2 separate regions of the Homo sapiens genome follow, and region 2 is linked to region 1. Evidence: fine-mapped expression QTL. Tissue or cell type: whole blood. Region 1 holds a variant in brackets; the other region holds the start of a gene. All regions are shown on one strand. Distances are between the middles of the regions.

Evidence for each region. PIP is the estimated chance that this variant, and not a neighbour inherited with it, causes the effect.
Region 2: it holds the start of LINC02012, and the variant in region 1 is the best candidate, but not a certain one, in a credible set for the expression of LINC02012 in whole blood (TOPMed, PIP 0.53).

The regions. Positions count from the first base shown.
Region 1 is chr3:197,566,545-197,571,916 of GRCh38, forward strand. It overlaps a transcript of BDH1 not described here. Among named protein-coding and RNA genes, the nearest start is that of BDH1, 13 kb to the left of the region's middle. The variant G/A (reference allele first, on the strand shown) is at 2,851.
Region 2 is chr3:197,506,674-197,512,045 of GRCh38, forward strand. It overlaps LINC02012 (long intergenic non-protein coding RNA 2012), which reads right to left and starts at 2,988. Exons shown (of 1, transcript NR_145451.1): 1 at 1-2,988. It overlaps BDH1 (3-hydroxybutyrate dehydrogenase 1), which reads right to left. Exons shown (of 8, transcript NM_203314.3): 8 at 3,110-5,372. The coding sequence ends at 5,222. RefSeq lists a silencer at 1,525-1,819 and an enhancer at 5,079-5,372.

The DNA.
Region 1 (5,372 bases):
AAAGCCAATTTAAAAGCCTATGTAAAAAAATAATTACTCTGGCTGCATTGTATACAAATAATTAGGCCAAGTATAGTAAAGCAAACCAGTCCTACCATGATTTTTCTTTAGTACAAACGGGAAACTGAAGAGAGAAACATTATGATTCAAAACTATAGTACAGCAGTTGTTAGATTCTAGTCTTGCCTAACGTTTCTTGATTTTTATTATTTTTTAAAGTTTGAACTGAATTCTAATTTTTCTTGGCTCCAAGTCTTCAAAGTAATTTTTGTTACTTTGTTTTCAATTTTTTTCTTCTTCTTTTCCCATTTTTCCTAATTTGGAGTCACTGAAAACTGAGCTGTGCTTTCATAAAGCCCCACAAACTGAAGCTAGACAACCTTCAGAAGAAAATAATAGCAACCTTATTTACATACATTAGCCACTTTCATACCTACCTACTGATGTATAAACTTCAGAGTAATGTGGCCTATATCGATTTTCCAGGATTGTTCTTTTGTTTGTTGTTGTTTTTCTACCTTCTTCCCCCTGTTTTCTCTTCAAAGGACATGAGACTTCACAACCTTCTAAATATGAGCTTTCCTAATAACTTGGGACCTACCTATCTAGGAATAAACCATCCTAGCCATGAGACACCAGATGAAACCTGGGACGAGGGACTCATTTTCTCCTAAAATGCTTTCTCCAAAAGATTTTAAAAAGAAAAGGAGGGAAACGTGAAAGGAAGATAAATCTTGGGGTCCCAAAATCACTAAGCTAAGGGAAGAGTCAAGCTGGGAACTGCTTAGGGCCAACCTGCCTCCCGTTCTGTTCAAAGTCATCCCTCTGCTCACTGAGAAAAATGCATATCTAATTGCCTCCTTTGGAAAGGCTAATCAGAAACTCAAAAGAGTGCAATTGTTTGTCTCTCATCTACCCGTGACCTGGAAGCCCCCTCCCTGTCCTGCTTTTGCCTCCAGTTGTCCTACCTTTCTGGGCCAAACCAATGTTCATTTTACATATGTTGATTGCTTCTCATGTCTCTCTAAAATGTATAAAACCAAGCTGTGCTCTGACCACCTTGGGCACATGTCGTCAGGACCGCTTGAGGCAGTGTTACAGGTGCACATCCTCAACCTTCGCAAAATAAACTTTCTGAATTAACTGAGAGACCTGTCTGAGATTTTGGGGGTTCATGGAGGGAAATGAGGCACCTGAGATTTTGGGGGTTTATGGAGGGAAATGAAGCATGTATGTAAGCTAAATGAATCATTAGAAGTCCTGTAAGTCTTCTAAAAGAGGGACAAATAAATGTCATCAGAGTTCTAATAAGGGTTCAGGATAGGCTTTGTAGAAGAGGTAGTATCCTGAAAGATTCTCAGTCAGAATGAAGTACCCTAAAAGAGGCCCCTGACCTGAGAGATCATGGTGTTCTCTCCTGTCTGTTTGCCTGCTAGCTCACACTCTCCTCCAATACCAGCTGAATTTAATCATTCCCAGCCCCTCCCTTGCTGGATCTGGCCCTGCCCGGGGTCTGAATGCCCCTGGTCTTCTCTGCCCTCAGTATTAAGTGCTCAGTGTTAATTCAGGACAGTGCAGGTTAAATCCTGCCCTTAGGCAGCCACCTCCAAGTCCTCACAGAGCCAGCGTGCAGCCTGCTTTGCTGAGTTCTGCTGGGCGATAGGGAATAAAAACACTGTCTACTGCCCCAAACCCCACAGTCTTCTGTTTGTTTTGATGCAATTGAATTTTATTAAAGTTTTGTGGGTTTTTTTTTTTTGGCTGGAAATCATACCCTTAATCTGTAGAATTTTATAGGTATTGAGTAGCTTTTTCTGGAATTGACAGCAAAGGAAAGAAGCCCAGTATATTATTCTATGCTGCTTCTAAAACGAAGCTGTGGTGCTCAGAATCTAGTGTGTTGAAAAGAGCCTTTGACAGCTGATCTTAACGTGACTGTAATGCTGAAATCTGTGGATGAATGAGAACTGGAGGAGCTGCCTTTTCCTTGCAGTGAATGAGCAAGTAAAACAAGTGCTTGACCTCAAGGGAAAAAGATGGAGAGTATCAGGCATCCCCACCCACTTTCTATCACTTAACTCTTACGTATTCATTAATTGAGTGTTTGTTTAAGCACAAGCATTTTGTGCATGGGTATGGGTTGTCTGTAAATTTAAGCAATGTTCTTTTGAGGTAACTAGGATCTTGGAAGAGGGAACAATATGAGGATATTTGATTAAAAAAAAAAACACCTCTGCCCATCCTGCCCTAAGCTACAGCAACCCATGCAATTTATTCATTCATTCAGTTTGCACTGATTGAGTCCTTATAATATCTCACTGATTGTGCTATATTCTTAGAGTGGAATCATAAATCAATGCAGGCTCCCTGTTTGCAATAATACTACAATTTAGCAATAAATGGTTCATTTCTATGTACCAGCCACTGTGACAAGTGCCCTCTATGCATTATTTCACTTACTTTTGCAACAATTCTAAAAGTAGCCTAAGATTATTCCCATTTGCAACTGAACACATTGACAGTTAGCAGGTTCAAATAACTTTCCCACAACAATACAACCAGGAAGTGGCAAAGACAGATCCCACCCAAGTCTGTCCTACTCCAAATGCTTTGGGTTAAGCACACCACCAATTGTTCTGAGGTTCTTTCTTTGAAGAAAGGGATTTTTAAAATCCCAGTTTCTGTAGCTATTTGGAGTACAGTTTTTTTTTTCCTTTTTCTAGAGTTACAGGAACTCAGCATGGAGTACAGAATTTTTTATAATCAGCTGGGCATCATTCATGTGGATAATCCAACAGAAGCTGGAATGGCTTTGTTACACAGAAATTTCATTCAATTAGTACAATACAG[G/A]TGGCAATTTCTGATGTCTTCAATGAGGAAAAGTTATAGGTTCTGGTTGATTATATTGATATGTTTTGGCTGTGTCCCTACCCAAATATCATCTTGAACTGTAGCTCCCATAATTCCCATGTGTTGTGGGAGGGACCTGGTGGGGGAAAATTGAATCATGAGGGTAGTTTCCCCCATACTTTTCTCGTGGTAGTGAATAAGTTTCTCCCATACTTCTCTCTTGGTAGTGAATAAAAACTGATGGTTTTACAAGGGGAAACCCCTTTTGCTTGGCTTTCATCCTCTCTCTTGTCTGCCACCATGTAAGACGTGCCTTTTGCCTTCTGCCATGATTGTGAGGCCTCCCCAGCCATGTGGAACTGTGAGTCCATTAAACCTCTTTTTCTTTATAAATTACTCAGTCTTGGGTATGCCTTTATCAGCAGCAAGAAAACAGACTAATACAGTAAATTGGTACTGGTAGAGTGGGGCACTGCTGTCAGGGTACCTGAAAATGTGGAAGCAACTTTGGAACTGGGTAACAGGCAGAGGTTAGAACAGTTTGGAGGGCTCAGAAGAAGACAGGAAAAATGTGAAAAAGTTTGGAACTTCCTAGAGACTTGTTAAATGGCTTTGGCCAAAATTCTGACAATGATATGGACAATGAAATCCAGGCTGAGGTGGTCTTAGATGGAGATGAGGCACTTGGGAACTGGAGTAAAGGTGACTCTTGTTATGTTTTAGCAAAGAGACTGGCAGCATTTTGCCCCTGCCCTAGAGATTTGTGGAACTTTGAACTTGAGTGAGATGGTTTAGGATATCTGGCAGAAGAAATTTCTAAGTAGCAAAGCATTCAAAGTGTGACTTGGGTGCTGTTAAAAGCATTCAGTTTTAAAAGGGAAACAGAACATAAAAGTTTGGAAAATTTGCAGCCTGACGCAATACAAAAGAAAAACGCATTTTCTGAGGAGAAATTCAAGCTGGCTGCAGAAATTTGCATAAGTAATGAAGAGCCAGATTGCCAAGATGATAGAGAAAATGTCTCCAGGGTATGTCAAAGACCTTTGTGGCAGCCCCCTCCCATCACAGGCCTATAGGCCTAGAAGGAGAAAATGTTTGCGTGGCCTGGGCCCAGGGGCCCCCTGCTGTGTGCATCTTAGGGACTTGGCACCCTACGTCCCAGCTGCTCTAGCCATGGCTAAAAGGTGCCAAGGTACACCTCAGGCTGCGGCTTCAGAGGGTGCAAACTCTAAGACTTGGCAGCTTCCATGTGGTGTTGAGCCTGTGGGTGCACAGAAGTCAAGAATTGAGGATTGGGAACCTCCACCTAGATTTCAGAGGAGGTATGGAAATAACTGGAGGTCCAGGCAGAATTTTATTGCAGGGCTGGGACCCTCACAGAGAACCTCTGCTAGGGCAGTGAAGAAGGGAAATGTGGGGTTGAAGCCTCCACACAAAGTCCCCACTAGGTTACTGCCTAGTGCGGCTGTGAGAGGAGGGCCACCGTCCTCCAGCCCCCAGAATGGTAGGTCCACTGACAGCTTGCACCATGTGCCTGGAAAAGTCACAGACACTCAATGCCAGCCCATGATAGCAGCCAGGAGGGAGGGTGTACCCTGCAAAGCCACAGGGGCAGAGCTGCCCAAGACCATGGGAACCCACCTCTTGCATCAGCATGACCTGGATGTGAGACATGGAGTCAAAGGAGCTTTAAGATTTGGCTGCCCTGCTGGATTTTGGACTTTCATGGAACCTTTGGCCCCTTCGTTTTGACCCATTTCTCCCATTTGGAATGGGTATATTTATCCAATGCCTGTACCTCCATTGTATCTAGGAAGTAACTAACTTGCTTTTTGTTTTTTAGGCTCATAAGTGGAAGAGACTTGCCTTATCTCGGGTAAGACTTTGGACTGTGGACTTTTGAGTTAATGCTGAAATGAGTGAAGACTTTGGGAAACTGTTGGGAAGGCATGATTGGTTTTGAAATGTGAAGACATGAGATTTGGAAGGGGCCAGGAGTGGAATGATATGGTTTGACTCTGTCCCCACCCAAATCTCATCTTGAATTATAGCTACCATAATTCCCATGTGTTGTGGAAGGGACCCAGTGGGAGATAATTGAATTGTTGAGGTGGTTCCCCCCGTAGTTTTCACATGCTAGTGAATAAGTCTCATGAGATCTAATGGTTTTACAAGGGGAAACCCCTTTCACTTGGCTTTCGTTCTCTCTCTTGCCTGCCACCATGTAAGATGTGCCTTTTGCCTTCTGCCATAATTGTGAGGCCTCTCCAGCCATGTGGAACTGTGAGTCCATTAAACCTCTTTTTCTTTATAAATTACCCATTCTTGGGTATGCCTTTATCAGCAATAAGGAAATGGATGAATACACATATAAACTTTGAAAGATGGCCAAGCATAGTAGTTCATGCCTGTAATCTCAACACTTTGGGAGAACAAGATGGGAGGATCACTTGACCCTAGGAGTTCAAGACCAGCCTAGGCAAACAGCAAGACCTTGTTTCTACAAAAATTTAAAAGTTAGC
Region 2 (5,372 bases), 60 kb before region 1:
TGAGAGGTCGAGGCAGGTGGATCACCTGAGGTCAGGGGTTCGAGACCAGCTTGGCCAACATAGCGAAACCCCATCTCTACTAAAAATACAAAAAAAAAAAAAAAAATTTAGCCAGGCATGGCGCACACCTGTGATCCCAGCTACTCGGGAGGCTGAGGCAGGAGAATTGCTTGAACCTGGGAGGCAGAGGTTGCAGTGAGCTGAGATCACACCACTGCGCTCCAGCCTGGGTGACAGATTGAGACTCTGTCGCAAAAAAAAGAGAAGCCAGATAGCCGAGGTCTGGATCTTGTGGGGTCTGGATCTTGTGAGGTCTGGATCTTGCAGGGTCTATATCTTGAGGGGTCTGGATCTTGCGGGGTCTGGATCTTGTGGGGTCTGGATCTTGCGGGGTCTGGATCTTGGCTCTCTCGTTTCCTGGCTCTGTGATTTTGGGCAAATGACTTCACCTCCCTGAGGCTCAGTTTCCTTATTTGTAAAATGCAGACAATGGCACCGCCTAAGATATAATCCGTTTATGCAGATCAGATGAGAGATTTGCCACGAACTCACTTGAGTAGTTGGGAGGGGCACGTGCATGTGAGGAGTGTCAGCATCTCACCAAAGCTAGTAAACCTGTCTCAGAGCGCTTGGCGGCTTGAGGGGAACTCTAAAGACCATTCAGCCTGGTGTGTGTCATCAAGAATGAGGGATTGGATAACCACAGCTGAAACCTGTTCAGACAGCGAGGAGATGGAAATCTTGTCAAATGGGAGACCTGAGCTCTTAAACCTGACTTGGCCACTTCCAAATATCTGGAAGTCTATTTCAGAAGAGTTAAATTATTCTGTGCAGGTCTGGGTCATAACCAGGTGCCAAAAACATTAAGTGAGGTGGTAGATTTCGGCTCAGTCTTTGGATAAACGTTTCTGAACCAAGGAAATGGCTTCTTAGGAAGTAATGCACCCCCTGTCACTGGAGGGCTTCAAGCCCTGGCTAGCAGGCTCCTCATCCGGGAGCCTGGGAGTCAGGCATGATGATGGCTGAGTCCCCTTTCCTCCCCTGGGGTTGTGGGGGTCCTGGCAGCCTGTCCCAGCCCTGGTCCCTTGCTCAACAGCTGCCCACCCCGTGCCTCCGAATGCGCCACTCGCAAGTCACCCTTCCTTAGTGCCCGCACACACCAGAGAGGCCTCATATACTGTGGGGTTGTTTCATCTCCCCCAGAGCACCAGAGCCCCTCAGCCCTCTTGCTCTGTCTCTTTGAGCAGAAATCATCACTAACTTCTCAAGCACGGCGCTCATATAACCCTCAAGCCCTTTGAGGGCAGCTCCAGAATCCAGCTCTGCCTGCTTGGTCTTTGAATTCCTAGAGCCTGCTCTCGGGAATGGCCTTGACAGAGCCGACTTCCCGCTGGAAGGATACTGGGGGCTCCTCCAGCACATTCTCTCACAGGGGGCAGCACTTAGAGCCCAAAACGGGAAGGGAAGGAGGGTCTGGCTCGAGTGGCAGGACCCCATGGTTGCTACTGTGCGTAGGCTGAGAGTCTCCTCGCTGTTACGTAACTGAGGACTTCTTCCCTCCCTATTTTAGATCCTGCTGCCATCTGCCCTGATTTTCCGCATCACCAGCTCTGGGCTGGAGGTTAGATCTGGCTGGACACCCAGCTCTACCCCTCACTTGGTGACAGACTTGGGAAAGCCTGTTTCTGCAAAATAAGATAACCCCACCCTGCCTATCCTGCCTGGGTTGCTGTGAGAATCAGGTGAGAGGAAGCTGTGGTGGCTGGGTAGCAGGACCTGCACTTGGCCCCTGTGCCTGGTTGCTGTCTGGCCAACCCAACCTGGGGCTGCCTGAGCCAGGGGAGCCTCTGCTTGCTCATGTCGGCTCCTATATCAACACAGTTTGCACAGGTTTGCAGAGCCAGGCCCTGTTCGAAATACAGGCAGTGAACAGACCTCACAAATGGGGAGTCTTTGTCAGACCCCCTGCCATGGGTGGCAAGGGTGCAGACCTAGCAGCTTGTGACAGGCGGGGCCAGGCTGGCTGTCACCTGCTCACACAGCCTCTTGGCCCCGGGTGGAATGCTAAGCACAGCAGGTGCTCTGTAACAAGGCACTGTCAGGCGCATCTTGCAAGAAGCCCTTGCCCAGCCTCCAACCATCAGGGGATGGGTTTGTGCTGGCTGGAGTCACCAGACCATAGGTCCGCACAGGCAAAGGCCTCCTTCCTACTTACTCTGACAAGAAGGAGCGGCTCTCTGCCAGCAGACAAGCAGTGAGGGTCTAGGTGCCTGGTGACCCCAACTGGCTTTGCTTCCAGGGCTGTTGCGAGCCACAGTGTTATGTGATAGTGAAGAGTGCCACTCAGGAGACTTTTGTTCTGGCCCTGGTCCTGCCGTGGATTTACTGTGACACTGAGTGAGTCACTTTCCTTCTTTGGGCCTCAGTTATGTCATCTATAAAATGGGAATATACACCTGTTTTGTCCTCTCACTCTTTTTTTGTTTTGTTGTTGTTGTTTTGTTTTTTGAGACAGAGCCTCACTCTGTTGCCCAGGCTGGAGTGCAGTGGCATGATCTCGGCTCACTACAACCTCTGCCTCTGGGTTCAGTCGATTCTCCCTGCCTCACCCTCCCGAGTAGCTGGGGTTACAGGCGCCCACCACCACGCCTGGCTAATTTTTGTGCTTTTAGTAGAGACAGGGTTTCACCACGTTGGCCAGGCTGGTCTTGAACTCCTGACCTCAGGCGATCCGACCGCCTGGGCCTCCCAAAATGCTGGGATGACAGGTGTGAGCCACCGCGCCCGGCCACGCACTCTGGTAAAGACGAAAACTACGTCCTGCGCCCCGGTAGGTTCTAAGCTGCCGGAAAGTGAATGGTGAATATGAGGTTTGAGTTAGCACTGGAGTTATTTGGAGGGATGGTAGCCTGGGCTTTTCAATCACTGGAAACGATTAAAAGCCAGAACAACCTGCACAGGCCGGCCCAGCAGTTCTAGCTTACTCAGAAGATCCCAGTAGACGCACATGCAGCTTCTCTGACGTTCGGGTCTGCTGATGGGGACCCAGAGTATGTGGCCCTCCTTCCTCTAGTTCCCAGGCAGGGACGCACACGTGCAACTCCAAGGCTCCATCTATTTTCCTTTAATAAACTTCAGCACGGACACAAATTCGCCCAACATGTAAAAGTGCAATTCCGAAAGGATCCTGCTAGAACAAGGTCCACGGTACAAAAGCATCCTATGGTTATGTAACTGCAGCGGCCACCAAGCGTCCCCCTCTGGGCTCTGGAGGGTTTCGGCCCTGCCTGCCTCCCCCCCTCCTCCTGGGGCAGCTGGGACAGGGGACCCCTGTTTGAAGACAGCGGGGACAACGGCCCGGGAGGCAGCTGAATTGCCCATTGTGAGGCCCTTCTTCCTTGGCACTGCCTGAACCCCGTAGCCCACTCCGGCTGCCCGGGCTCTTCTGCCTTCTCCTGGCACCAGCCTCCGGGCCCGGGCCAGCTGCTAGGAGAGCGAGAACACTGTTTCTGAAGGGTGCTGCTTGCTTCTTTGTTCCCGGTTTCCGAAGCGCGAATCCCGAACGCCGTGAGAAACCTCAGGCTCGGGCGGCAGCGCGGGAGTCTGGGGCGCTGGAGGCCGGCGCCGGCTGCGGAGGAGGAGCGCCCTCTAGCGGCAGGTCCGCCCAGGGAGAGGCGGAAACGCGGAGTCTGATTCGAAGGCGGGCACTGGGGACCCTGCCCCGGGCCGAAAGCCCCCTGGAGGACAGTGGTGTTTGGCTTCGGTCCCAACATACAGGCCCTGGGCAGTCGCAGGGATGGCAGCTTTCAAACTGAAACCCAAGAAGTGATCATGCAGACCCTGCCTCAAGTGGCATCACTTCTTAATTGAAAAGAGGCCGAGGCGAGGCGGGAATGAAGGCCACGCTGAAGCCCTGCAGAACAGGGGTGTGTGTGTGTGTGTGTGTGTGTGTGTGTGTGTGTGTGTGTGTGTGTGTGTGTGTGTGTGTGTGTGTGTGTACATGTGTGTAAGGTGTGTGTGTGTGTGTGTGTGTGTGTGTGTGTGTACATGTGTGTAAGCACCACGTGAGGCAAGCAGGGACCCCAAATCCACTGCTAGGGGAGATGCCACAGTGCCCTGCCATGGCACCACTGCTCGTGCCAAGCCTGCCCCATCGACACCGGCCCCACCCAAGGCAAAACCAAGCAGACCCAAACCAGTAACAACTTATCCCCTTAGCCAGAGAGCACCTCCACACAAGTCTATCCTGAGTCCTAAAAGAGGATGGAAAAATCTCAAGTAAAAATCTCATGCCTGTAATCCCAGCACTTTGGGAGGCCAAGGCAGGCGGATCACTTGAAGTCGGGAGTTCGGGACCAGCCTAGCCAACATGGTGAAACCCCATCTCTACTAAAAATACAAAAATTAGCCCGGCATGGTGGTGGGTGCCTATAACCCCAGCTACTTGGAAGGCTGAGGCAGGAGAACCGCTTGAACCAGGGAGGCGGAGGTTGCAGTGAGCGGAGATGGTGCCATTGCACTCCAGCCTAGGGGACTGAGCAAGACTGTGTCTGGAAAAACAAAAATCTCCAGAAACATTCCCACCCCCTCCATACAGCCAGCTCTGAGTCACTGGCTGCTGGCTGGCCAGTCACACAGCACCATGGACATGCAGAGGTACCAGTGGGCACTTGGTGTGTGCTGCCCAGATGAGGACACAGAGTTAGTCAGAAGATTCTCGGGCAAATGGATCCAAAACAGTCCTGGAATGCAAATGTGAAGTATTTCCACAGCCGTGGCAGGAACACATAACTGGCACTATTTATAAGCGATAAAAGGGTTATTTCATGCATCCTCTTTAAGCTGCAAATGCTTCATTTACAAAAGAAAAAAACCTGTCCTTTTCATTCATGAGACTGGCTTAAGGATCAAATGAGATCTGTTTTTAATATAAAGATGTTTTCTTAAAATCTCTGTATGAAATTATCTCCGGAGAGATAGATTCACCATGTTTGCCCTGAGATTTAGAGGCCTCTGCCTGCCACTCCACACCCTGTTTGTGAAGGCCCAAGTCACTCACTATGCAAAGAAGTCATTCCCTCTAGTTAGTGTTAAAACCAGTTATGGGTCTTCCTGGCATGGTGGATAATCCACACGTGGATAATCAAGAGTTGACTATATGGGTTCCTCCCTCCCCTCCCCTTCCACCAGGGATCCCTGACAGAGGCCACAGCGAGACTCTTCAGCGGATGTAGATCATGTCGGAGATGGCTCCAGGCAAGTGGGTCATGATCTGCATTCGCAGCCACCAGTAGTAGTCCATGGGGTGGTAGCGGGTGTAGGGGGTGGTGGCGGTCAGGGCGTGTGTGACAGCATCGATGACAGGGGACGTG